Linked DNA regions of Homo sapiens. The protein of the gene in region 1 interacts with the protein of each later gene in a pairwise test. Each region holds a gene or a part of one and is shown on either strand. Other genes may lie near its edges.

Region 1 (7,026 bases):
AGAATTTCTGAAATTAATGTCAGGGTGGTTTTCTTAAAAATCTCTGTCTTAAAACAAAACAGATAATGGAAAAACCCAAAGTAACCATCTCTCTTCACCTACTGGAGCATGTAGGAGGGGAGGAGAGGGGAAAAGATGCAGAAAAAATGCAAATGGCAGGACCCCGGGAAGGGGCCAGGTCCTCTGCAAACCCACCGGCACCAGGCACCATCTGCTTGGGGCTGTGCAGTTTACTCATCTTGGACTGGCCCTGATGCCGCCTGCTAAGCAGAGAGTGGCAGCAACTCCAGGGCAGTCACAGATAAATTTTTTTTTCCTTTCAGAATAGCTGGACACAATTTTCTGAGCTCAACAGAAGGCTGCCCCTGGGCACGAAAGCAGAAATGTGTTTGTGGGCCCAAGTCACTATATTTTAAATGGACTTGGGCTCTGTGGTGTGTGTGGGAGGAGTGGGTGCTTGTAGGACTGTACGGCTCAGTGGAGACACTGGGAATGCCACGATAAGAATGCTCTGAATCTCAAAACACAGCCTCCTCTCCCCCAAAAAAGAAAAGAGGTAATGACCTGGAGTTAGCCTCTTCCTTCCTAACTCATTAGGTACGTTGCATGTAATAGAGTGACTCATCCTTTCCTTGGGCAGAAGCATCACCTGGACATACTAGGTCCTGCTAGGGAAGGAGACATGAACACTAAGCTTCCAAGGACCACAGAAGGAGTCCTTAGTGTGGTTCCCCAGTGCATCCAGGCTGCCTCTGAGCCAGGCAGGTCCCATTTCCCAGTGTGCAGGCCCAAAGCCACCTTGAAAATGATGATTCCCATGCATGAAGAGGGGACCCTTTCCTCCTAACACTCCGGCTCTGTGTGATGTCTCTGTATGGTCTGTGAGTTGGACCCTGAGGACAGGGAGCTGTGGAAAGCTGGGGTAAGGGACGGGAGTGGGGATCTGCAGGGTCTGGCTGTTCTAGAGGCTGGGTTTGGGAGGTGAAACCTAGTGGCAGGAGTCAAGGTTGGTGTCCCTGGCTGGGCCTCGTGGCTTTTTCCTTTGTTGCCAATGGCTTGCTCTCAGTAGGCGGCAGCAGACTGCAGAGGTCTCTCATGTCAATGAGGCTTTCTTCCACAGCTTTTGCAAACTTGCTAGAAGAAGTCTCTTTGCAGCTGTGAAAGCTAGAGATGCAGAAAAGGATGGTCTCTGGCTGGGGGTTGTAGCAGGCACCATACCCATTTGGGACCACAGGACCATAGCAGCAGAACATCTCCGTGGTTGTGGGCACCTGGAGGAGAGGACAGGTCAGGAGCTGCTTGTTCTGGAATGCAGCCCGCCAGCCTCGACTGGGCTTGGCTTCTCTGTTTTCCACCTGGGGGTTTGACTGAATTAACCAAATCAAGTGATTGCTTTAGCATGGATGGACACAGCCAGAGTCATAAAAACAGACCCATCTAACTGCATGATATCAGAGGATGAGGGGCCCCAAGCCCACTCCCTGGTGTGCAATCTGCTCTACTTGTGGAGTTGGAAGCTCCCGGAGTGACCTGGTGCTAGGTCTTGGGCTGAGTCTCCACTTCACCTGGGGGCCATTTGAGGCACGGAGGCAATCAGGTAATTTACTAAATGGTCCCCTGGTGGCACCCCATAGTTAGATGCTTTCCGGAGGGAGGAATTTATGAACTGGAGGAAATCTGGCCCATCCTCTGTGTCGATTTCCCCCAGATCCTTAATTACTGTCAGTATTGCCTGGCTTCTCTGATTTCTCCCTGCAGCCTGGCCATGCACAATTACCCAGAGTTGGGTGTTTCAAAGATTGCCATCAGTTTTACTTATGCACCTAGTATGTTTTGAATCAGAGTGCTGAGATTTTGTAATCCAGATCACAAACCAAGAAAGTATGTTTCTGAAAGCATTCAAGCCATAAATGCTGCTTTCCAGTTGGAAAACAACAAAACTCCCACACCCCAGATTAATTTTATTAGCTGGTCCTTGGGAAAAAAAATAGAAAGGATTCTTGGGCAGGTGCAGGGCCTGGTTTGTTTTAAACCTACAGGTTTCTGGTGCTGTGTGCTGAGGCCTTTGGAAGTGACACTGGCTGTTTTAATGGGGCAGAACAAACCATTAGTCTTGCTAATAGAGTCACCACATTGTCAGATAAATTTGCCGTGCAATAGCCGAAGGCCATAAAGCCATTCCAAAGCACTTTTTGCCCATGGATGATTTCCTGAGAAATTTATGGTGCTGTGTTCTGTCCTCGTTTATTCACGTCTGCATGCTCACTGCCATAATGACAACATCCCATTACTGAGTGGGCTTCTGTCCTCAAACACAGCTTATCAACTCCAGTACTGCCCATCCAGCCTTTCGCAGATGAGGTGGCATTTTAGTAAATTGATGGCTGTGGGGCATTTCCCCTCCTAAACCACGACCTCTCTCTAATGGATTGCATTCTGTCTTTGTGGCAGTGGCTCTCATACAGGACACGCTGAGGCACTGGTTAGATGTTGGGCTGGCCACGAATGTTCTGCTGTTGGTTGCGTGGCCCTTTATAATAATATCTGTGACCTATTTAGAGGGCCCTGTCCATGCCAGGCCCTGGGCTGGGCTTTCTCCCTACATAATTGTATCTGGCCAAGCCAAGACTTCACTGCAGACCTGCTGGGCATCAGAGCCCGTGGAAACCGCGGCAATAGATTGAAAGGTAGTAAGGTGTAATGGTTAGGGCACCAGAATGGGTATGTTCCTGTACTGTCTCCACCTCGGCTAAGTAGGGTCTGCTGATTACTCCCATTTAGGAGATGGGAAACCTTCTTCTTCCTTTTTTCTTTTTTTGAGACAGGGTCTCACTCTGTCACCTGGGCTGGAATGCAGTGGTGCAATCAGGGCTCACTGCAATCTCCACCTCCCCAGCTCAAGCAATCCTCTTATTTCAGCCTCTTTAGTAGCTGGGACTTCAGGCACGCACCACCATGCCCAGCTAATTTTTAAAAATAGGGAGATGAGGTCTCCCCATGTTGCCCAGGCTGGTCTCAAACTCCTGGGCTGGAGCAATCCTCCTGCCTCAGCCTCCCAAGGTGTTGGGATTATAGTTGTAAGCCACCAAGCCTGGTCAGTAAACCATCTTCTAATGAACATTCAGATCATTTTGCTGAAGATCACATAGTTCAGAAAAAGCAGAGGCAGGATTTGCCTGATTCCAGCTAGTGGGCTTGTTGTCACTGCTCTTTAGAAAGCTTACTGACTACACTACTCTTGGGCGATAGCTGCACGGGGCCGTACCTGGCTAGTGGAGAGGACAAACCGGTTGCTCATCAGGTAGGTTTCATCCATGAACATCTCGGGCAGCTCCTTGCACATGGCCCGGGCCAGCTCCCGCAGTGCCAGCAGGTGGTTGTCAATGGCCATCCCTGTTATGGCCTGTGTAGTTGGGGACAAAGAACAGGAGATGAGAAGTGGGCCTCCTGCACCTCCTTGTTCCCTGCTCTGTAGTCTACAGGACTGCTGGTGACTCCAGCAGCCACGGCTCATGCTTACCCAGTGCCTGCTGCCAACAATGTGTATGAGTGGCTGCTCAGGACTGACCGCTCTACCATGCGGCCTCTGCTCCCGGGCCCTTGCGCATTTCCACATGCACTGAATGAGTCCAGAGCAGGTTGGGTTCTAGCTTGAGACATCTGAGCTAAAGGTTAGTGAGTCTGAGCATCCCCTACACAACTATATCCGCCTGGTTCTCTAAGTGGAAAGAATGGGGCTGGCCTGGTCTTCTCAACTACCAACTGCTTGGGCAGGGAGAGAGTTTGGGAAGAAGGCTGTGTGCAGAGCTTGGAGACTACCGGATCCTGTGCAAGCATTGTGAAGGGCGTCCCAGGCTGTCCTGAACAGACTCCCACCACAACCAGCGCTGTCTCCTCCAGTAGGAGCCCAGGGAACAAGAGATAGAGGATAGAGGGTGTGAGATCTGTTACTGAATCTTGGCTGCTATTTCATGGCTCAGGATCAATTCATTTAAACTGGATCCATAATCTAAGAAATCGTTTTGAGACAGGAACTAGACCCCTTAGCAGGCTCAACTGACATTTTCAAGGGGAAAGAGCCTGTTGAATAATAAAAGTTCTTTTTCTTTTTATCACAAGATATTTAAACTTTTATCAAAGGATAGAAATATAGAGAAAGCTCCAGGATGTCAATGTAGGAGGGGTTCACGGAGGGTGAGGTGTCTGGAAGTGGGGCCGGGTACTCATTCTACAGCTCCCCCACTTGAGGCTGGGTATGTAGTATGCACACTGGTTTTTTGGACTGCATGTTTATTTGGAGCAATTCTAGGGGCTGATGGAGACTCAGGGGGCCACCCTGACCCATAGTAATCACTTTTGGGTCAACATCAGGGTAACTGTGAGTAACTCTTGGGGTTTCACAGTTCTGTAGGATGGCCAGTTAGCTGTCAAAGCCCTGCACAGGAGGAAACTTCCCATTCACAATGAACTTGGTATAGGTTTACAAGGCACGTTTAGGGATTTGACAGCTGTTCTCTTTCAGTTGCGAATGAATGCATAAAGATGACTCAGGCTCTGGTCTCTCTGAACGCACCTAATTAGAGGCTGAAAAGACAAACATTACACAACCACAGCTCACTTTAGACGTGCCCTACCTGTTAGGACCGAAGGAAAGAACGGTGAGCCCATCTATGAAGGAGACTACTCTTTTAATTTCTCTGGTTTCCTCTATTTAATTCCTGATTTGTGTTGGTCCATAGAAGCAGCTTCCCTGTGAACAGTCAACTCACCCCTCTTTTCACCACCTTGGAATAACTGTAGCAAGAGAGACTGAGTTCACAGGTTGTTTGGCTCAGAGCCATGAGTAATAACGAGTAAAATGACTTATAATTCAGTCTTTCATTCATTCATTTAGGGAATCTTAATTGAGTGCCTACTATATGCCTGGTGCCGCGGGTCCTGTAGCCACAACAGAGAACAAGACAGTTGTAGACTCAGTCCTTGTGGAGCTTATGGTGTAGTGGGGGACAGATTTCATCAACCATGCAAAAAAACATGATCATAAACTCAAGTGTGAGGAAGGGAAAACATAGAAGTGGGAGAGTAAGTGATGGGGGCTCTGGACCACCTTGCCATTGGAACTTTATTTCTCCACGACCACTGGCAAATATGCTTACCAGTTATTAGGTTTCCTTGCTTCTTTCCCCCTTTCCTTACCCTCCATGTCCAACCACACACCAGATTCACATCCTAAGCATCTTTGTATCTCTCCTTTCCCCAAACCCATCTCTTTGATTTGGTTGTTCTCATCAACTTAAAATTATTAACACAACCCTATGGCAATGCTTTGGAGGGTGTTTTCCTAGACATTTTAATAAATTTAAAGTTGTTATTGTCATATATTTATATCGTTTAGAAATCCAAATAAACCAAAAGCCTAGGTCATTTTGCCAGCACGGATTCCTACCCCACAAAGGTAATTCCTTACAGTCTTTTAGCTATTTCTTTTGGGTATATACTTTCTTTCCTCCAAACATATGCTTAGGTTACCACTACTGAATTTCTCAGTTTTACCTATAATCTTCTTGTTATAGACAGTGAAATTTCAGCTCTTTTTTTTTTTTTCTGAGATGGAGTCTCACTCTGTCGTCTAGGCTGGAGTGCAGTGGCGCGATCTCAGCTCACTGCAACCTCTGCCTCCTGGGTTCATGCCATTCTCCTGCCTCAGCTTTCTGAGTAGCTGGGACTACGGGCACCCCGCCACCACACCTGGCTAATTGTTTTGTATTTTTAATAGAGATGGGGTTTCACCGTGTCAGCCAGGATGGTCTCGATCTCCTGACCTTGTGATCCACCTGCCTCAGCCTCCCAAAGTGCTGGGATTACAGGCGTGAGCCACTGCACCCGGCCAATTTCAGCTCTTTTATGACCCTGCTCCCCCAGCACACTTCTACTCTCCCATCTTCCCAATAAGATTATGTTTTAACTCTTTGTAGTTTGATCAAGATACAGCATAATCATGTATACAGAACGATATACATAAGTATAATTAAGCAAGTATTCACAGCTGGGTCATGTAGTGTACTATGATTAGATTTCCTTTCTTATTGAATTTTTTGTTTTCCCTAGAATTGACAATGTATAAATTACTTTTTTACTTCCTTAGCTTTCCATGTATCTATTTTATTTATTTATTTATTTACTTTTGAGATGGAGTTTTGCTCTTTCACCCAGGCTGGAGTGAAGTGGCGTGATCTCGGCTGACTGCAACTTCCACCCCCTGGGTTCATGTGATTCTCCTGCCTCAGCCTCCTTAGTAGCTGGGATTACAGGTATGTGCCACCACACCTGGCTATTTTTTGTATTTTTAGTAGAGATGGGGTTTTGCCATGTTGGCCAGGCTGGTCTTGAATTCCTGACCTCAGGTGATCCACCCACCTCGGCCTCCCAAGGTGCTAGGATTACAGGCATGAGCCACTGTGCCAGGCCCCATGTATCTGTTTCTAACTGATTCCTAAACATGCAGCAAGAATTTCATTTGTCCTCTCACTTCTTGCTTCTTTATGGACTGATTGCTCTCTAGGTGTACTCAACAACTGTTGATTTGTGATCTCCTTTTACTGTCATCCTGCGGGCACCCCTCTATCTTTTTCTTGTGTTAAATCTTCTGTTTTTTTTCAGCCTATGATTTCCTCTTTTATGTTTTATTTTCTCACTTTAGAAGTCTACATTCTCCAGTAGCTTTATGAGAAATGGTGCTTAATAAGTAAAATGTTTGAGACTTTCTCTGTCTAAAAATATCTTTGATGCATCTTCAAACTTGATGACAGTTTAGCTGGGTATGAAATGTGTGTTGAAGGTCACTTTCTCTCAGAATTTGAAGACACTACTCTTTTTATCTTCCACCTTCCAATGATGCTGTTCAGAAATTAATTACATCTTTTTTATGGATCTTTGTATTTGATTTTTTTATCCTCTGATAGATTTTAGAATCTTCTCTTCATGTTTAGTGTTGTGAAATTTCCTTTGCTATGAGTATTTTCCATC
Region 2 (7,026 bases), about 32 Mb from region 1:
GCACTGCTAACTACCCAGAGGGCTAGCATACTTCTGATGCTAACTACCCAGTCAGCAAAGACTTCACAGGTTGAAGACACAGCTCTCCATAAGACTCCCTTCACTTCAAACCTCAGACACAAGCTCTGGGGTCCCCAGGCACTTCTGACCAACTGGATACAAACTGGAAGTTCCCACTACCCTTCAGGATTGATAATTCACCATAGCAACTCACATAGAAAGTACTATACTTACAATTAGAGTTTTATCACAAAAAACACAAACCAGGACCAGCCAATAGAGATACGCAGTTGTCTCTTGGTATACATGGGAGATTGGTTCCAGGATCTTCCACAGATACCAAAATGTATGGATGCTCAAGTCCCTAATATAAAATGGCATTGAATTTGCATAAAGCCTTTGCACATCCTCCTATATACTTTAATTTCTCTAGATCACTTATCATGCCTAATTCAATGTAAATGTTATGTAAATAACTATACTGTATAGGGCATAATGACAAGAAAAATGTCTCTATGTGTTCGGTACAGACATGATATTTTTTCCTCTACAAGTTTTGATCCACTGTTGTTTGAATCCATGAATGCAGACCCCCAGATACAAACAACCACCTGTATGGAGCTAGATCTGGGAGGGTTCCAAACATAAAGCTTCTGTGCTAGGAAGCTTCATCACCCTCCAAATACATCAGTGTGTATCACCACAATGTGTATCACCTACCAGAATGCTTAACTGAGCTTCAGTGTTCAGAGTTTTTATCCTGTTTTATCAAAACAACCTGTTTTACCAAAACAAACATTTAACTCTGTGAGATGAATCCACACATCACAAAGCATTTTCACAAATAGCTTGTTTCCAGTTTTTATCGCGGAATATTCGGTTTTTCAGTGTAGGTTTCGATGGACTGGGAAATGTACCTTCATGGATTCTACAATTGGGGTGTCATTATATAGGTATGATTTATGAAATAGGACCACACAGTGGAACTTAATCTCCAGGTCCCTATCCTTCCCAGGAGGTCCTATGACTCAAAGCCCAAATCCTTTAATCACATGGTTAGTCCTTCTGGAGTGGCCAGCCCCCAGACCAAGTCATCTTATTAGCATAAACTAAGCTATTATCCCAGGGGCCCACCAAAAATAACAAAGATGCTCTTATCACTCAGAAAATTCCAAGGATTTAGAGGCTGTCTCCTAGGAAACAAAGACTAGTCAAATTATTTATCATTCAACACTATAAGAGAATTTTATCTTAAAAGAAACCCAATATATACAGCAAACCCAAGTGGAAGTGCTCTGATTGAGGAGTCCCAGAGCCTGCTCCCTAGGTACTCAACCCCTCTAAAGCCCAAGAATATTGAGTGAGTCATTCTGAACAATATCACTTACTTCATCTTAGAAAAGGAAAGCATGTTATTACTTTGGTCTGGTAGTGCATTTTAATAATTAATTCATCATTCTCACTGACTGGTAGCCAAGCAGGTTGTTTTTTTTTTAAGTGCATTTTTTAAAAGAACACACTTAAATTCTAAAACCTGCCACCTTATTCAAAAACATAATAGCTAAGCATATTAAAACTTATTAAAAAGTTAACAGTTTATCTGATCAAATATAAATTGCCTACTATCATAGTTGAGTGCTATCTTACAGTTCTTGATTAATGATACATCCAGGAACATATGATACAGTTATCAGCAGATATTATGTTGAAAACTCATGAACTACTTTATTACTTTCCTACACATAAATAGAATCAGCATCTGATTCATATTTGTATGGATGGATCAGAAACACAACCCACTTCAGAAATCTAAAATTGTTCACATCATTTATTGAGGCTGTCTCAAAATCATCAAAATCAGTGGCACAATTCTTCTCAGTTATAAAAGAACAAGTATTTTTTTTTTAATCAGAAGGATATAAACTACCTACAACATGGTTCTGTGAATAGCAAATGAAGTCAAAACTATTTATTTTCTAAGACAAAAACAGGGTTTGTGGGAAAAGGAAAAGTGACAAAAATAACAGACTTGCTTCTAAAGAATTCAAAGCTTCATAATGATCTCATTTTATCCTGAGAATATCCTTACACTAATACTCAAAAAGAGGAGATTGAGAAATCTGCCCAGCAGTACCCAGAAAAAACATACACAGAGCCTCATTTGAATTTCAATAGTCTTTTCAAAAGATTAGAGAACTTTTTCTGATAAGCAGCAACTTTTGATTTTTCTCAAAATTTATCACTGTCAAAGATCTGGGGAGGTAAGAAATGCTGACAGGAGGACTTCGCATCACATTTAGGTGGTGAGGAAAGGACTGTCATTCAGTCAGCCCGAAGATGTAACAGTTCATTAAAAATGGCCAATGGAAAAGTAAGTCTGAAAGAAATTATCCTCTTTGCAAATCAATTCTTCAAAAATCTTTCATCTAATATCCCTGATCCTCCTGGAAACTGTATCTGCAAAGAAATGTAATCTGAAGCTCTGCTAACCAGAAAAAGAAGTAGGTATCAAAAGAACAGCATGGAAGCATTTCAGAGAGGAACATAAAACAGAAATGATAACCTAAAGGCATTAGAAAAAACAGCTTAGAGGAGAGGTAAAATAGGGACAGAAGAATCAAAGAATACAAGTTCTTAATCCAGTGGATATCAGATGGTTAACATACTTGTATTCTGAATTTTCACATTTCTCTCCTATGTTTTAACAGTAACTGATTGCACACCTTAGAATCCAATAGTCCCCACATCTATTTCTAACTTGATTATAAAAGGAGCTAAAACGTATCCATTGGTTACTACATGCCAGGTGCTATGCTAAGTGCTTTACATGCATCATCTCCTCAAAACAAACCTACTGAGGATTAATGAACAAATAGGTATGTCAAGCCAGAGGATCCACACCTGAAGAGCACAGTGGCATAAAACCAATAAGGAGTGAAATACACCTGCAAGAAAAAAGTGGAAGGTGAGGCTCAAGAGTCACAAAGAAGCCAAATATAAGAGGCCTTACATGCCCTGCTGAAAAGTTCAAAGTACTGTGAAAGCGGTAGATTCTTCAGAACTTTTTTTTTTTTTTTTTTTTTTTTTTTGAGACGGACTCTCGCTCTGTCACCAAGGCTGGAATGCAGTGGTGTGATCTTGGCTCACCGCAAGCTCCGCCTCCCAGGTTCACGCTATTCTCCTGCCTCAGCCTCCTGAGTAGCTGGGACTACAGGCGCCCGCCACTACGCCCGGCTAATTTTTTGTATTTTTAGTAGAGATGGGGTTTCACCATGTTAGCCAGGATGGTCTCGATCTGCTGACCTCATAATCCGCCCACCTCGGCCTCCCAAAGTGCTGGGATTATAGGCGTGAGCCACCGCGCCCAGCCCTCTCTAGAAATATTTTAAACGGAGGGGCCACGCGTACATTCACATTTTAAAAATATCACCATCAGCCATCTGGAAAATAACTAGGGAAAAACTGGAAGCAGGGAAGAACAGCTGGAAGCTACTGTACTAATCTGAGAGAGTGGTGATCTAAACCTGGAATCCTTGAGGGCATATTCGGTACCAGGGTATCTGGCACAGGGTAGACAGGATACATTTGTTGTTTAGAATGTAGAAAATTACAACTACAGAAGTCAAGAATTACTCCCAAGTTCACGACTTGTATGACTAAGTAAACTTAGGTACCAACTATCAAAACAGACAAAAAGCATAATTGAGAAGAAAAATTTCAAATGGTTTTGAACATGCTGAACTTGAGATATTTGAAGCCTATTCAACTCTGGTAAAGAGTCAGAATGTCATGTGTTTTCACAAGTAATCCTCATAGCATCCGCATGATGTATAATGGATATTGCTATCCCTATTTACCAAAGTAGAAAGTGAATTCAAAGGGGTCCTATACCTATCCAACTATACATTGTGTCCATTTACTAAGAGTAAATGCTGCAGGTGCAATTTAAGCCCAAAGCCCAAGGTCTTTCTATCATATCACACTTCAGGAGAATGTGACATTAACATTTAAGATTCATCTAGCTTATGATTTATGAGGCTGACTGGACTAAGCAAAGCAGACTAAAAAAATGTCCAAGTATGTAGGATGTGGACTGGCCCAAAGCAGTCTGACTGGGAACACAAATATTCTATTATAGAAACAAAGACATATGATGATTTAGCAGAGGCAGGGAAATGATTCAAAGATGCCTCTTGGGTTTCAAGTCAAGATAACTACAACACTAAAATATTACCAAATTGGCTGGGCCCGGGTGCCTCACATCGGTAATCCCAGCACTTTGGGAGGCTGAGGCAGGCAGATCACTTGAGGCTAGGAGTTCAAGACCAGCCTGGCCAATATGGCAAAACCCCATCTATATTAATGTAAAAAAAGATTTAAAAACAAACAAAAATGTTACCAAATAATGAATGAAGAGCCAGACTTAGAAAGATAACTTCAGTTTTCTGACAGATGAATTTGTTTTGGAGGGAAAAAAGAACAGCAAATAGAAATACAAGACTAATGTTCTAGAAAAACACCAATAATTCATTATTTGATAAATAATTCTTGAGTGCTTTCTATGTACCAGACACTATCCCTAAAGTATTAGGGGAAAAAAAATGAAAAGTTCTCATCTTAATGGAGTTTATATTCCACACAAAAGATAATCAATCAATTAATGTCAGGTCACTAAGTACTATAAAGAAAAAGAAATGGAACAAAGAAACAGAGTGAGAGGGTAAAGATGCATTTTTTTTAATTCTTTTTTTTTTTTTTTTAAAGACAGGGTCTCACTCTCTTGCCCAGGCAAGAGTGCAGTCATAGCTCACTGCAGCCTTGACCTCCCAGGCTCAACCAATCCTCTGGATTCAGCATCCCGAGTAAATGGGACTACAGGCATACCACCATGCCAGCTAACTTTTTTATTGTTTGTAGAGACAGGGTCTCATTATGTTGCCCAGACTGGTCTCCAATTCCTGGCCTCAAGGAATCCTCCTGCCTCAGCCTCCCAAAGTGTAGGGGTTACTGGCGTGAGCCACTGCATTCAGCCCAAGAAGGATATTTTTTACAGAAGATTATTAGGTAAAGCGTCTCAGAAAATGACGTTTGAACAGAGTCCTGAATGGGTGTGATGAATATCCAGACCTTCAAATACCTGGGTGAGGAGTATCCCAGGCAAAGAGTACCATATAGCTACAGAGGCAGGAATGAGCTTGGAGCGTTCAGATTTAAGAAGCCTGGAATTCAAGAGAGTGAGTCTGGAGATCATAATCATATCAGACACACAGGAAGAAGCCATATTGTGAGCCACAATAAAAAAACTTGCATTTCCCTTTAAGTAGGATAGGAAGCTACCAGAGAACTCTGAGCAGGTAACTGACATTATCTAACATTTTTAAAAGATCACTGACCTTTGTAAATGAGAACTGATTGTAGAGGCAAGAGTGGTAACAAAGAAACCTACCAGAAGGCTCTTGCCACTGACTATAAGAGATAACAATGACTGAAGTAAGGTAAGAATGGTGAGACAGAAAAAGGTGATGATGTGTCCGGAGTTTGTTCCCTCTGGTGGGTTTGTGGTCTCGCTGACGTCAAGAATGAAGCCACGGACCTTTGTGGTGAGTGTTACAGCTCTTAAAGGTAGCACGGACCCAAAGAGTGAGCAGCACCAAGATTTATTGTGCAGAGTGAAAGAACAAAGCTTCCACAGCATGGAAGGGGACCCGAGCCGGTTGCTGCTGCTGGCTAGGGTGCCCAGCTTTTATTCTCTTATTTGTCCCCGCCCATGTCCTGCTGATTGGTTCATTTTACAGAGTGCTAATTGGTCCATTTTACAAACCTCTAGCTAGCTACAGAGCACTGATTGGTGCATTTTACAAACCTCCAGCTAGCTACAGAGCACTGATTGGTGCGTTTTTACAGAGCACTGATCGGTGCATTTTACAATCCCCTTGTAAGACCGAAAAGTTCTCCAAGTCCCCACTTGACCCAGGAAGTCCAGCTAGTTTCACCTGTCAATGAAATTCTGGATATATTTTTAAAGTACAGCCAAAATATCTTGCTGATAGGATGAATGTGAAGTGTGAAGAAATAAGAAGAATCAGTGATACTCCTAGACATTGGAGCTCAGTGACAGGAAACAGTAATCATGTTGTCGTCTACTGAGAAGGGCAAGGATGAAGGAATGAGCAGGTTTGGGCAAAGAACTAAGAATTGAGTTTTTGAATGTTTGTTTTTAGACTCTAAGCAGAATCCAAATGGAGATGCTCAGTAAGGAGATGGATATCTAGGTCGAGAGCTCAGGCAAGAGGCTGAGAGTAAGAACATAAATCCAGGAGTCACCAGAATACGCTAGGTATTTAAAGCTAAGAAATTAGATGAGGTTCTTTTTAAAATCTTACTTAATAAAAAGTACAGAAATTTTTCTAAGTGCTTTACAAATATTAACTCAACCCTCTTAACAACTCTCTGAGGTAAGAACTATTATTACTCTTATATTCCATATTAAAGATAAGGAAACTGAGACACAGATTATCTAAGCAACTAGGCCAAAAATCACACTACCGGTAAGCAGCAAACCTGGGACTGAATCCAAGCAGTGTGGCCCCAGTCTGAATTCTTAACACTAAGCTAAATTGCTTCCTAATACTCTAAGGGAAAAAAAAAAGTGGAAGGAGAGAAGAGGCTCCGGAACTGAGCCGCAGGGCACTCAACTTTTAGAAGTTGCAAAAAGGGGAAGCAAAAAAATTTAAAAGGAGCTAAGTAGAAAATGAGAAAAAGTTTGGTGTCCTGAAATCCCATGAATAAAATACTGTATATCAAAGAGGAATGCTTAAGAGATCAAAAAAGAAATGGACTAGAAAGTGACCATTGGATTTGGCAAGGTGGAAGTCACTAGAGACTTTGAAATACAAACTTGATGAAATAAGTTATCTTTACGTTTCTTCTAAATTCAGCTCTTGAATTATAATGTCCAAAATGAGATTCATTTATTCCATAAATGTTTACTGAAAGTTCTTCAGCATGCCAAAAACTGGTCTACAG
Region 3 (7,026 bases), on another chromosome or scaffold:
AGCCCTTAAGAATTCGAAGAATGTCCCATTTCCCTTGTGGGGGTGGGAGGGGTTGGTAGGGGGAAGAGGAACAGTAGAAATTAATAGAAGAGAAGGGGCAGCTGAAGGAGGGGCCAGGACAGAGCTGCAACCCTTCCTTTACCCAGATAACCTGCCCAGTGCCCTCCTTCTTCCAGAAGGGACAACTTCATGTTGCTTCTTGGGCTTGAGATTTTTATCAGGAATCTGTTTTCCCAGCACCTGGTGCAGGTTAGTATGTATTATAGCAGCAGGCAGGCAATAAATGTCTGCTGAATGAGCGAGCCCCTAAAAAGATGAAAGAGTGGTCTTAGCCAGGGAACGGGAGGGGGTAAGGAAGCAAGGAAGGTTTGGGGTAAGGTTAGGGGTAAGGCTGGAGGTTTAAGCCCCCTTTTTAGACAAGTCCCAAATTTTTTTTTCCCTGGGTGAACTTCAGCTGCAAAGAGCCTCCTGACTGAGAATTAAGAGAAAAAAAAAAAAAACTGGACTCAAGTCAGATCCTAAATTCATGTGAACACTGAAATTACCATTACTTGAGTTGGTTGAAGTTAAAAAAAAAAAAGTTAAAATTAAAAAAAAAATCGAATTAAGGCTGGGCGAGGTGGCTTATACCTGTAATCCCAGCACTTTGGGAGGCTGAGGCGGTGCATCACTTGAGGTCAGGAGTTCGAGACCAGCCTGGCCAACACGGTGAAACCCCGGTCTCTACTAAAAAATACAAAAATTAGCTGGGCATGGTAGCATGCATCTGTAATCCCAGCTACTCAGGAGGCTTAGGTACAAGAATCGCTTGAATCCAAGAGGCGGAGGTTGCAGTGAGCCAAGATCGCGCCACTGCACTCCAACCTGGGTGATGAGTCCTCTGACTCAAAAAAAAAAAAAAAAGCAAATTAAAAGAAAAAGAAATTATCATTACATCATTACTTATAAGTGACTTGACCTTCCAAAGCCTCCACCTCGCAGGTGGAGGCGGCTGTGAGGCCCCAACACTGAGTTTGTACTTGCTACTCACAAGGTCAATTGGAAGATGGAAAATTGCTGTACTTTCTGGGATTGCATGGGATGGGATGGGATGGGATGGGAGGGGAGGTATTCCTCCAGGCTCTGGGATGGGGGACCCCACCTCTATACTCCCTCCCTACCGTCAGCTGCTGCAGGTCCCAGTGCAGAAGGAACAGAGCTGCACTATACTCAAGATGACTATACTCAAAAGAAACAGTCTCCACAGCCTCCCTCACCAGGCAGGGAAGAGATCTATCTGGCCCAGGCAACACCCTTTATGCACCCCTGCCCATTCTCAAAAAATGAACACCAAAAGGGCTGGCATGAGGCTTCCAGAGAGTTTTCTTGAAGGAACCACTGGAGGAAGGAGCCCCCAAAGCCTAGAAGTACCCAGGTGAGAGAAGGAAACTGTCGATTTTGAGGAGAGAAATAAGGGAAGGTAAACAGAACAAAGTCCTCAACCCCAAATACAACAGACACGTCACTCATTCTTGAAAGACCACGAGGAAAGCCCCCTCTTTTGTAGCAGGGGACAGTGGAAAGAAACGTGCTCGCCTTACTGCCCGAAATTGGGTTAGAGCCTGTCTTGCCCTAGCCATCCCACCTTGAGAGTCTCTTCCCTTCCCTAAGCCCCAGTTTCCTCATCTGTACTTTAAATGCACTTTAAATGGGGGATAAAAGCACTTTAAATGGGGATAAAAAGTGCTTGCTTCATTCAGCTGTTGTGAGGACAAACTGTGATGTTCAAGTAGGGGATGGAAGTGTTCGCCAATGTCACCTTGCGGTTATTGGAAGGAAAGGAAGAACTCACTCGGGGAGGGAGCCAAGGTGCCCACCCAGCCCCCTGCCCAGAACAGGACTCACGCGTTGCAGTAGGGCTTCTTCTCGTAGCCCTTGTAGTTCTTCATGTTCAGTGTCATCTTGCAGGTCTCGCAATGGAAGCATGCTTTATGCCAGAACTGGGGATGGAGACAGGAGGACATACATCAGATACCAGGACTTCTGAAAAAGGGGCTCAGGCCCTAGGAAGGGGCACTCAGGAGCTGCTGGGACTGTCCTAGGCCCATGGCTGTGGGGAGAACATGGAATCATCCCAGGTGAGCTGGGGGCATTTCAGGTCACAGGCTTTGGCACTCCCCTCCCCTCTCTCCTTCCTCATCCTCCACCAATGGGCCATTTGAACCCAGGAGGAAGAGACAGGCAGGCATGAAGGACAGGGGGGAAGAGCCCAGTTATAGCAGTGGCAGCAGCCCCCAAGTCAGCTCCACCCTCCCCAGGGAACCCCTCCTGCCCAGAGCTGGCGAGGCCTCATTGCTTATGCAAAGCTGCGCTGGGTTGCTAGGGAGCAGCCGCTGAACATGAAGGAGCAGCTCCTCTGGTGGCACCAAGGCCTCAGAAGAGGAAGGCCCAGCCCCCACACACCCAGGCCCAGAACCCAGGTGCTCCTAGCTCCTGTACCAGGGCCCAGCACACCCACCAGCCCCACATGAGCCCCAGGTGGTGCTACAGCTCCGATACCTCCCACTTCCTGTGGGATGCCTGGCCAGAGGAGTGGGCTGGGTGTCCCAGGCTCTGTCAACACAACACATCCTTTCTACCCTTCCCTCATCCTCTCCCACCCCAGGAGGAGGGCAGGAGAGCACCCGGCAGCGGGTCTCCCACTGAGGCACTGAAGGGCTCTACTTCAAAGCCTTGAAGGTGGACACCCCTATAGTGGACATCAAAGCTCTACCCCACTAACTGTATGGCCTTGGGCGGGGCCCTGCACCTCAGAGGAGCCCACTTCCTGGTGTGTACAATGGATGTAATAACACCTGGCCCTCCTGGGATTGTCCAGGACTGAGGAGAAATCACCTTCAAAGCCCTCAGCACAGCACTTGGCACCTCTGAGCACTCAGATGTCAGGTGCTGGGCACAGCAGGTGTGAACCTTAGCCGAGGGGGTCAGGGCTCACACTGGAGATTGTGTGTGTTGGGGTGCAGAGGGGCTTCACTGTGCCAACCACAGCTCCAATCCATTCATGCGTGTGAGAATGTGGGACACGGCCGGGCACGGTGGCTCACGCCTGTAATCCCGCACTTTGGGAGGCCGAGGCGGGCGGATCATGAGGTCAAGAGATCGAGACCATCCTGGCTAACATGGTGAAACCCCATCTCTACTAAAAAGACAAAAAAATTAGCCAGGCGTGGTGGCGGGTGCCTGTAGTCCCAGCTACTTGGGAGGCTGAGGCAGGAGAATGGCGTGAACCCAGGCCACTGCACTCCAGTCTGGGTGACAGAGCAAGACTCCGTCTCAAAAAAAAAAAAGAGAATGTGGGACACAGGGCCCATCCAGGGTGGCCGACGGAGGGAAGAGAGTGATGACAGAAAGAGAACAGATCTAGCCGGGAGCGGTGGCTCACGCCTATAATCCGAGCACTTCGGGAGGCTGTGGCAGGCGGATTACTGGAGGTTGGGAGTTCAAGACCAGCCTGGCCAACATGGTGAAACCCCGTATCTACTAAAAATACAAAAAAATTAGCCGGGTGCAGTGACGGCGTGCCTGTAATCCCAGCTACTCGGGAGGCTGAGGCAGGAGAATCGCTTGAACCCAGGAGGCAGAGATTGCGGTGAGCTGAGATCATGCCACTGCACTCCAGCCTGGGGTATAGAGCGAGACTTAATCTCAAAAATAAATAAATAAATAAATAAATAAATAAATAGGCCGGGTATGGTGGCGCATGCCTGTAATTCCAGCTACTTGGGAGGCTGAGGCAAAAGAATCACTTAAACCCAGGAGGTGGAGGTTGCAGTGAGCCAAGATTGTGCCACTGCACTCCAGCCTGGGTGACAGAGCAAGACTCTGTCTCAAAAAAAAAAAAAAAAAAAAGAGAAACGATCTAACAGGCTCCACGTGGCAGCCTGGAGGGGTCTTTGTGGAACCCCTGAGAAGTATTGATGCTTAGGCAAACCCATGACAACAGGATCTAAATTCACCCCCAGAAGCCCAGGATGATGTGCTGGATCACCACCAAACAGGGGTCCACTGCCAGGACCCCAGAATAATCCAGGCCACCTGAGTGACCTGGCTGGCCTGTCCCTGCCCCATTTCCCAGTAGTCAAGGGAGACATTCCCCATTCCAAAAGAAGGAGGCCAGGAGGCAGGCCCAGGGGGACTTTTGAAGGAGCCCAGCCACAGAGCTGGTTCTTGGCCATTTGTCAAGGAATTCCCCCAAGGCGATGCTTTTCAAAATGTTGTCTCCAAACCCCCGGAGGGAGAGGTGCTTCTGAGACACTGGGAGGAGGGGATAGCAGAAAGAAGGCTGAGAATCTGGGATTCAACCTCCCTACCATGGCCCACTTCAACCAGAGACCCCCAGGGTAATTTCAGGGGGAAATCACCTTCTAATAGGGTACTGGTTCCCTATCAAGAAGACCCAAAGGAAAAACCTAATGGTGGAATATTAAACAGAATGCTAGGAGAACCACTCTTGGGGAGGACGGCCAGCCGGAAGTCTGGAAGCAAAGAAGTGGCGGGTCTAAGCTTGGCCCCCTCCCCAACCTGGGCCTATCCCAGTGACCCAGGGCCCCCAAACTCCTATGAGGCAACTTAAAGACTCCTTCTGGTGCATAACCCAATAGACAGAACCCACCGGGACACTAAGACAGACTGGTCCCTGCCCCCACAGGCCCCTGAAGTGGTGCATACCCCAACACACAGAACCCACCAGGGACACTAAGACAGGCTGGTCCCTGCCCCCACAGGCCCCTGAAGTGACAGCCCCACTCCCTCCCCGAGTAACTGGGAGGCATTGGCAGGGTGCCCCAGCCTGGTCACCACCCAGTCTGCTGGCCTCTGCCTACTTAGCTGCACAGGCCCCTGCCTAGGCCCCTGCCTGGGCCCCTGCCTCCCCCTACCCCCACAGGGGCCTGCCAGGAAAAACATTCTCCAGAATCCAGACCATGACCCACTTTCTCACACACACACACACACACACACACACACACACGAAGGGCTACACACTGTCCTAGGACCACGGACCTCCAAGGCTGCCTCCTGATTGACGTTGGGGAGACAAAGGGAGAGAGACCCCTACTCCAGATGGCCAGGCCTGCACCCGGAGCCAAGCCCCTTGGAGAAGGAGGGTGGGGTGTACTGAGCAGGCAGGGGGCACAGGGCCAACACTGGACCCAGTGGTTCCAAAGACCCCTCCAGGCTGCCACGCGGAGGAAGCAGAGCCCCTCTTCTAGGGGATGGCACCTATTTCTATCAGTAGCTCCTTCCCACCTCCCTCACAGGCCCCACACTCTCATCCAGACACCCAAGGGTGGGGCAGAGGAGGGTGGTCGCCTGTCCCCCTGCAGGGGGCTCTGAGCAGAAACATGGAAACCAGTTACTATGAAGCACAAGTGTCAAGTGGAGCTGCAGCCACTGTCTCCCAGAGTGCTGGAAGGTCAGGAGAGGAGGCCGTTCCACCCCTAATGCTTGGCACCTCCAGCAGCTTCAGGCGACTCCCCTACCCTCTCTGGAGGAAGGCCCCAAGGTTCAAGAAAACCCACCAGCTCCTTCCACTGTGTCCTTTTTGGGGTAGGAAAATTGTGGGGAGGGGAGGCAGAAAATGGCCAGTCCCTCCACAACCGCTGTGAGCCAAGCCTGGACCCTAAGATGAAAGAACTCCTGCCTTGTCTCAATGGGGTCTGGGGAAGGACACTGTCAGGGAAATATGTCCAGAGGACCCCACAGTGACCCCGTCTGCCTCTGCCCTGCCCCATGGGCTCTGTCCCAGAGCAAGAGCCCCCCTCTTTTAAAGGCCCCAGGCAAGATGATTTCAGCGAAGCATTCCTGGGCCTCAGGACTCAAGGAAACTGCACCTCGAGGCATGCACCTCTGCCCCTTCCTGCTGCCTGCAAAGTCCATGGCTTCCCTGTTCACAGAAACCAGACAGACCCTACCTCTGCTGCCTGTTAGAGGCCTCTCAGCCTGGATCCGAGGCTCCAAGGCAGGGTCATCTTGATCTTCCCTTGCCTACCTGCAACCCACTCTAAAGAAAGGTAAACAGGCTGGTAGGGGCAGAAGCCTGCAAGGATACCCCTCACTTGGGACAGCCTGTCCCTCTGTGGCTCTGGGTTGGGGGGGATGTGGCAAGCTTCGTGTCACTGTGCCTGCAGCCTGGCACCTTGGCCTCTGAACCCAGGCTACCTGGGGTGGCCATGACTCAGGGATGGATTATGAGACCATCTCTTCCCTTCCTGTTGCCCAGGGTTACAGTTTCTCCCTCCTGCAGAGGCAATGCCAGCCCCACCCTGGCCGGGGCACCAGCCTAGCTTGGTTGGCCACCTGACCCGCTGGCTTAAAGGCATAGATCTTTGCTGCACCTCCACAAATTCCGAGGAGGACAGGATTATTCCCAGTGGCCCCACGCCCCCATACAAGACCCCAGGCCCAGAGCATTCCTCCAGATAGGGTCAGGAAGGGATGGGACCTACTTTTGGCACAAATGAGATGTAAATAAAATATAAATATGTATAAATAAAAGTACTTTCTGCAAACACACTGGCAGAAGAGCTGAGCAGAAAGAACTGTGGATGTGAATTTCAGCTCTAAGAGAGGGAGATGAGCCACATGGGCTACCTGAGCCTCCATTTATGGAGTGCATCGTTTACAAGAGCGAATACACCTACTTTGTGAGGCTGCTGTGAAGACTGAGCCCAGCATATCGTGATAACTAGTAGCTATTATGAAGGGATGGTCACAAGATGATGGTGGGGTACTCTAAGCTTCAGCTAGCAAAACGGGGCACCACAGCTGTGAGGACTTCAACCCCCTCGAGTGGGGAGGGAGCGCTGAGACAAGCAGAGGCAGAGAGCCCACCCTAACAGGGGATTCCAGGGGAACTGGCAGCAGACCAATCCTCTACCTCCACCTGTTTTCAGAAACCTGGGGAAGCAAGCCAGGAAAGAGGGACGTGGCGAGGTTCTTGACAACACAGCTCCCTAGATACAAAGCAGGTGCACAAAGTAGGTGCTC
Region 4 (7,243 bases), on another chromosome or scaffold:
TCAGCTGTATTAAAACTACTTCAACTGAAACTTCATCTTCCAAGTTACTGTAAAAATTTAGAAAGCTGTGAAAGAGAACATTATATAATCTTACTGTGGGTTTTAAAAACTCAATGTAATAATGAAAAAAATTAAGAATATCAAAGCGTGCCTTTATAGGGGCACATTAAATGTTTATGACATTTCTTGAATTACATGGTACTAAACTCCTGATTTGTTAGCACTGTTGTCATTGAGTATGGTACATGGAAACCATGGTTGCCAGGTCAATGGTTGCCAGGTCAATGGAGGTTTTCTGTTTGTTTTTAAGCAGCAATTCATTTTAGTGACAGACTGCACTACAGCCACTACACTTCTCGTTCTTGGAAAACGAGAAGAGTTAATCAAAAGTGTGTGGACATGGAAGTCTAAAATTATTTCGAAATAAGTGTACAGATGGATCAGTTCAATTCCATTTTAAGTTGTTTTTATTAAAGAATGAGAGCACATTTTATTGCTAGAAGTTAAATATATAATGGATAAAAGTTTTAATATTAAGTTTAAATTCTGAATGACTTAAAAATTGAACTATTTAAAAAAACTGTAACTAATACTTTTAAAAAATACTGCTTTGAACACAAAGGTGTATATGCTGTTTGAATTCAGGATAAAGATATCTACATATTCTTGTCCAAATTAAGTACACCATTCCTTACACAAGGTCCTTCATAATCTGTTATTTTAAATCTGTTACCAATTTGAACATAGAGATCACATTTTCTTGCCTCATCAATCATCGGGTAGTAAAATGAGAAATAACATTCGGCATTAATATGCAAATCTGGACAATTTTTACAGCAATTACTTGATTTGTAGTCACAAACTCTACTTAAACTGACATGTCTTCCTTCTCCTAACAATAAAATAACACCATTAAACCTGAGACTTAATTTCAGTCCATAAACTGGGTTTGTTCTCGTTATTAATAATTCTTGTTTCATAATATATCCAGTAATGCATATATTTTAAGTGTTGATATGTATTATATTTGGCAATAATATTCAAGTACATTACTCCAACCTCTTAAGTGAAAATCAGCAATCAAAGCAGTGCCTTAAGCAGAAAGCATTAATATTTAGTGATTGCAGGCAGCACTGTCATCTTTATGTCTATAAAGATGCAAACAAATTTTATTAACAATGCAAACAAATGCAGACAGATGCAAACAAAGTTTAAAGTAGAATGTTTTAAACGTGTGCCCTGAAAACAAGTCTATTATTAGACCCCCATAAGGAGATTCAATTCTGAAAAGATCCAAATGGAAGTCTGTCAAACTGTATATACATCGTGGTGATTCTTGAAACGAAAATATCTTCCCATTATTTAAATAAGCAAAATTCTACAGACCCTTGAACATGTCCTTTATATGTTATTCTCCTTATACACGCAACATATCCTGCTTCCTGGTTATAACGCCATTCTCAAACACAAAATCAGGCCAATTTTTAAGAGAAGCCAAGACTTAAAAAGCTCGGCGGCGATGGCTCACGCCTGTAATCCCAGCACTTGGGGAGGCCGAAGCGGGTGGATCATGAGGTCCAGAGATCGAGACCATCCTGGCCAACATGGTGAAACCCTGTCTCTACTAATACAAAAATCAGCTGTGCGTGGTGGCGCGCGCCTGTAGTCCCAGCTACTCCCGAGAGTTTGAGGCAGGAGAATCGCTTGAACCCGGTAGGCGGAAGTTGCAGTCAGCCGAGATCCTGCCACTGCTCTCCCGCCTGGGAGACAGAGCGAGACTCCGTCTCAAAACAAAACAAAAAACAAAACAAAAAAACTCCTTATGATATTTCCTCTTTGATATTTGCCTATATTAGGATTACCACATAACATAAAGGTTACGGGGAATTTATCAAGAATGTAAAGACAGTTAAAGCTTAAAGAACTTAAATATTACCTAAGCTAAATTTACATAGGAGAAAACTGGTGCCCAAATAAATCAAGCAGCTTCGCAATATCTCAGAATATCAACGCCAGGATTAAATGCCGCTGGTTCTGTGGTTTTTCCAGCAGCTCCAAAGAAACATTTTTAAATTAGGGGTTTAAAAACTACCAGATGTTAGGAAACAAAGGCGGTGCCACGACGTGTGCTGCCGTCCGTGTGTCGGGGGAGAGGCGAGCTATCTTCCCTGTGCACCCGCGGCCTCCCACTGCCCACAGCCCAGCACACACGAGGTACTCGGGGAAGAAACAGGGAGACAAAGGCAAAGTAAAGTTCGAGGCTCAGTCCCGGCTAGAACTCCACGCAAACGACTAGGAGCCCGCTAAAGCTCACCCAGCCTGAATTCAATTCTGAAACCAGACTGCTGAATCTCACCCAGCCGTCGGGACGCCCCAGACGGCGTCCAAAGCCTCCAGGGGACGCGCGGACCCTACAACGGCCAGGCAGCGGCCCGGGCCTGCAGCGGTCGTTGGTCGTCGGCGTAAGCGTGTCAGGAAAATAACACGAAATGCAGCACAGGTGGGAAGCGGCCGGAAGGCAGCGGGGGAGAGCGGAAATAAGGCGGAGAGCGCAGGGCGCCGCGGGGCGGAAGAGGCCGCCAGACGCCCCAAAGAGACTGGCCGCTGGGCCCTCACCATGCAGCGCCTGGGTGACGGCGAGGGCGCCTTCTGGCCGGATGCTGCCGGGGCAGGAAGCAGCGTCTCGGACACTTGCCCTCCCACTGCTCGACGGGGCTGGGGAAGGACGAGGGTGAACCCCGCAGCCACCGCCGCCAGCCCCCACTGTGTATTCGGCGTGAGAGTGAGCCGGGCACTATCCAGCCGTTAGCAGTGGTCTGGTAGTGACCCCGTTTCCCCTTTCCCCTCCTCACCCCTTCGGGTCTTCAAATGTTGGTCCTAAATCCCGGGGCCCAACGACCAAAAACCGCCGCCACCGTTTAGGGGACCAGTCGGTCAGAGCGAGGGGGGGTCGTCGCAGGGGGAGGGTAGCCCACCGGGACCGCTCGCGCTGGTCCTCGTGTCTCCACTCGTTTCCCAGCGCGCAGCGCGCGCGGTGGCCTAAGCAGCCCCACGAGGAGTGGTGCCTCATCCAATCAGGGATTAGCTTCGGGGCGGGGCGAGGAGGAGAGAGTGGGGCTAAAGTTTAAATGAGGCTCTTGGGCTAGTCAAAGTGCTTGGAGTGACAGGCATTTCGAGCAATTGGGGTGAAGAGAGCGATTTTTAGGGTGTGGGTGGGCACGGAATAATAAATGAAGGTCCTAGGTGCATTGTTTAGGTGTTTGAAGACGAGGGCTGCAGTGTGAAATTCCGCACTTAAGGGAAAACATAGATGCATCGTAATGGTTCTTTTTCTTGTTTGATGTAGTTTTCTTGTAAACTGCTAGTTTGGCGCAAAACAACCACATATATCCGGTGGACCTTTGAAATTAAGGGCTAGGGGGAGGTGGGTTATAAAGCTAAAAGATGGATTTGCAAATAGGACTAGAAGTATAAAGTATAAGTGGTTTAAATGACAATGACTAAGAAAATGGGTTAGATGAGGAGAACTAGCGATAGGCTTGACGCTACCACTAATCAGCTTGCAGGGACATTTGGCAGAGGCGAACTGCCGAACTGGGTTCTATGCTCTTGTAAAACCAACTTTCACAGATAGGGTTGTTTGGCATTCGGTATGCATAACTTCAGTTTTGCTTCCTTTGAAGACAGCTCGAAATTAAATGCAGACAAGGAAAGAAAAAACCACCTTTAGGAACCAACTATTTATGTATAGATAATATTAGATTCATGGAATATTAGACAATAAAGAACCTAGCTCATGTTGATTCTCTAATTAACAAGGAACTTCATGCCCAGAATATTCACCGAGTAACACAGATCTCCTTATTCCCAACCTCAAGGTGATTTCTTCCACATTAACTCCTAATGTATTTTCTCCATATATTCAAGGAACTAATGAATGTCTACCAATTTAAATTTTGTTAAAGTATATTTTTAATTTTTAAATATACTACAACAGTGAGGAATTAGCAGGGACTTTGGAGCCAGACAGACCCTGTTTAAAGTGGGGATTGTGAGAATAAAATAATATATGATATTACCAAATATTGAGCCAGATGCCAGAAACAATCCTAAGGACTTTTCATATTTTCATTTAATTCTCACAGTAACTTTGGTAAAGTTACTAGCCCTACTTTGCAGACGGGGAAACAGATGCAGAAACCTTAAGTAGTTTGGGCAAAGTCATATAGCAAGTAAGTGGCTCCAGTTTGAAACCTACAGACATAATTGCTATACTATACTGTCTCAAAATACGTCCAGAAACAAGTAGAAAACTTGGCATAGTACTTGATGCACACTGGAAGCTCAACAAATATTTTTTGTAAGCCGTCTGCCCTTTAGTCAATGAATACAAGTGTCATTTTATATAAGATGTATGCATTCAAAATAAAGCAACTAGAAAACCTAGACTGATAGATCTAGTTGGCTTTGTTTGACATGTCACCAATTCTGTACCTCGGGAACTGTGATTGTTATATTGATTACTATTTTTTGCTGCTCTTTTATTTCTCCAGAAAAAGATTCTCCTCATTCTTCATTTTCATGTCGGTACCTTCTCAATTCCTAGTAATTAATTCTAAATACATGTGTTTAAGGTTAAATTATCTGAAATGAGGTTAGGCATATTAGTGGCAATTTAAAACAAGTAATTTCTAGGAATGGCTGTAAGATCCTTAAGGAGTCACTAGGTGGAGATGTTGTGAGGTACAAAGATTGTTCTTGGAAATAGCCTGGAAGGTTGTTGAACATTGCTGGTTTTCTTGTTTCCCTTTTTGTCTTTTTTCTCCCCAAGTATAAAGAAAACCAAATAGACAAGGGCTTCTCAATAGGCATTACAGTCAGACCATAGAACCTTGCCATAGATGAGACAGTGTTGTTTAAAGACCCTTCCCATACTTAACATTGTATGTCATTTTGGTTAGATTTTGTCTAAGTTTTTATTATCCTAAAGTTTATTAATAGGTATACTTTTCAAATGCTATAAAAACTATTGTCTGCATGTACAATTAAAGAAATGACCTTTAACTTTATTTCTCAAGGCTCCCAGAGAAAGAGATCCAAAACACTTTTATCAGCTAGAATTCTTCAGTAACAGATTCCAAATTGGATTTGTTTTAAGATTATTTGAGCTTATGGGAAAAGGTGACCCAAATGAGTAAGAAGGAAGATGATAAGCAATGTAAAGGTGTTTGTGACTAAAAAGAAGTGTCGAAAGATACTTGGCATACAAGGGAGAAAATAGAAGGGGATCTCTGCAAACACCAGAAAGAGAAATAATAGTGACTGTGTGACATGGGAAGTAAAAGTTATCAATAAAAAATTGGAAGGAGCCGGGTGTGGTGGCACACACCTGTAGTCCTAACTACTTTGAGTTAGGCTGAGACAAGAGGATCACTTAAGCCCAGGAGTTTGAGGCTGCAGTGAGCTATGACCGTGCCACAGCACTCCAGCCTGGATGACAGAGCGAAACCCTGTCTCAAAAAAAAAAAAAAAAAAAAGGAAGAGATGCAAAATTCAAGTGGTTAAAAATAGTCTGAATACATGTATTTTCCCCATATAAAATGCAAGCTTTTATATCACTTAGAAGTTAAGATGCAAGCTTTTATATCACTTAGAAGTTATTTTCATATACATTCTGCAAAATACACCCCCTGACAAAGGAAAGAGAAGCAATGGGAAATCTTTAAAATGTTTAACATCCAACTTAGTCCTCTGTTCCATATAAATGAGCCTGTGCAGTGATCTGGTTTATTTTCCATGTGTTGGAGCTTCTTCAGCTTCCTTTATCACTGTGGCAGTGATATGACACAGATCCACCAAAAACATGGCAGCTACTTGCATGTTTATAGAATTAATGATCTACAGCACATCGCTCAGGAACAAGGAACTCTTTAATGTGGTGAATCTTCAATTGAAATGTCATCTCAAACCTGTTTTGGAAGTGTGGATTTGGGGTTTTGTTTTATTTTATGTGTGTAGTAAGTATGTTTATTCTAATTCACTGACCCTTACTTTCTTATCCTGGTTTAATGCATTCTGCCTGACAGATGAATTTGAACTTTTCATTATACTGGAAGGTGAGCATCAGCACCAAGATGACTATATGTGGCGGGAGAGGCGCATTAACATTGCTTTTTTCCAGTTATGGTGATGAGCCATATTTACATCCTGTCAGTGTACCCCCTATGATTAACAACCTCACTTCCCAAGGCAGCAAATCAGAACCTGAGATCTTCTTCACATGTAGCTAATGGCCTATATATGGACCAAACCCATGACCAAGGCCTCAGTTGACATAGGGGCAAACTAAAGGAAGTACTCATAAAGCTAACCCTTTTCAGATTGGTATAAGTTGTTAGTTAACATCAGGATCCACTTATCTAATTATTAAAAATAAATACATAAATAAACCACAATAATAGAAATAGGTGATGCGAAAGGAAATACACATTTTTCTCTGAGAGATCTAGGATTAACTCACAACATAAGAAACTAATATATGTAATAAAAAATAAGTTTCTGATAATGAAGACTGATTAACTTTGGTTGAGAGAGAATGTGATTAAATCTTTCCTGTCTTATCTCACTGGATAAGTTTGGTAGTGTGCTTCCCTGGGTAACAAGTTACAATGAAAACTAGAGCTGTAAGACACCTTAGCAACCATTTGGCTGGGAAAGCTGAAATTAACTTGCCCCAAGTCAAAGAGCCAGTCAGCAGCAATACTGGATCTCCAACTCCTCTCTTCTAACTTTCATTCTGATACTCTGGTTCTCCCAGAAACTTTTAAATTGCATTTTAAGTTTTTTTAAGCCATCATAAATATATTCCATGAAGAAAATTATTTTGGTTGAGGACAACAGGGCCAGCATTGGTTCAGGCACTTCAGTACACCTGGCCATGAAGGATGTGTGAGGCAAAGCACTTTCTTAGGCATGACATTTCTCTCTTAGCACTCCATGGATGGCATCTTCCCTGGATGATTCCAGCTGGGACAGTCCAACTCTGTCATTTGTCACTGCAGAGGAAGCAGAGAGAGACTCCCGTTTGGTGCCCAAGAGGGCACTTTGCTTGCATTTCTCAAATGCAGGAAATAAGGAGAGTCCATGGAACTCGAAGGGGAAAGAGGAATGCCATTATGACCCATAATGCAGTCTGGGTTCTAAACTAAGCATCAGATCTTTCTAATGAGTCACTGTATCTCTC

Evidence for each region.
Region 2: the proteins of CHAT (region 1) and STAM interact in binary tests that used the Homo sapiens proteins (3 or more experiments, as listed by UniProt).
Region 3: the proteins of CHAT (region 1) and LASP1 interact in binary tests that used the Homo sapiens proteins (3 or more experiments, as listed by UniProt).
Region 4: the proteins of CHAT (region 1) and RBM46 interact in binary tests that used the Homo sapiens proteins (3 or more experiments, as listed by UniProt).

Annotation. Positions count from the first base shown.
Region 1 is NC_000010.11:49,659,022-49,666,047, reverse strand, and holds part of CHAT (choline O-acetyltransferase), read right to left. Parts: intron 3,404-7,026; coding exon 3,266-3,403; intron 1,272-3,265; coding exon 1,002-1,271; 3' UTR 1-1,001. UniProt on the Homo sapiens protein: Catalyzes the reversible synthesis of acetylcholine (ACh) from acetyl CoA and choline at cholinergic synapses.
Region 2 is NC_000010.11:17,647,128-17,654,153, reverse strand, and holds part of STAM (signal transducing adapter molecule 1), read right to left. Parts: intron 1-7,026. UniProt on the Homo sapiens protein: Involved in intracellular signal transduction mediated by cytokines and growth factors. Upon IL-2 and GM-CSL stimulation, it plays a role in signaling leading to DNA synthesis and MYC induction. May also play a role in T-cell development.
Region 3 is NC_000017.11:38,873,039-38,880,064, reverse strand, and holds part of LASP1 (LIM and SH3 domain protein 1), read right to left. Parts: intron 6,186-7,026; exon of another isoform or gene 5,952-6,185; intron 1,980-5,951; coding exon 1,885-1,979; intron 1-1,884. UniProt on the Homo sapiens protein: Plays an important role in the regulation of dynamic actin-based, cytoskeletal activities.
Region 4 is NC_000004.12:154,777,046-154,784,288, reverse strand, and holds the start of RBM46 (probable RNA-binding protein 46), read right to left. Parts: upstream 3,018-7,243; 5' UTR 2,853-3,017; intron 2,785-2,852; exon of another isoform or gene 2,617-2,784; intron 2,501-2,616; exon of another isoform or gene 2,357-2,500; intron 2,334-2,356; exon of another isoform or gene 2,315-2,333; intron 1-2,314. UniProt on the Homo sapiens protein: Essential for male and female fertility, playing a crucial role in regulating germ cell development by ensuring the proper progression of meiosis prophase I.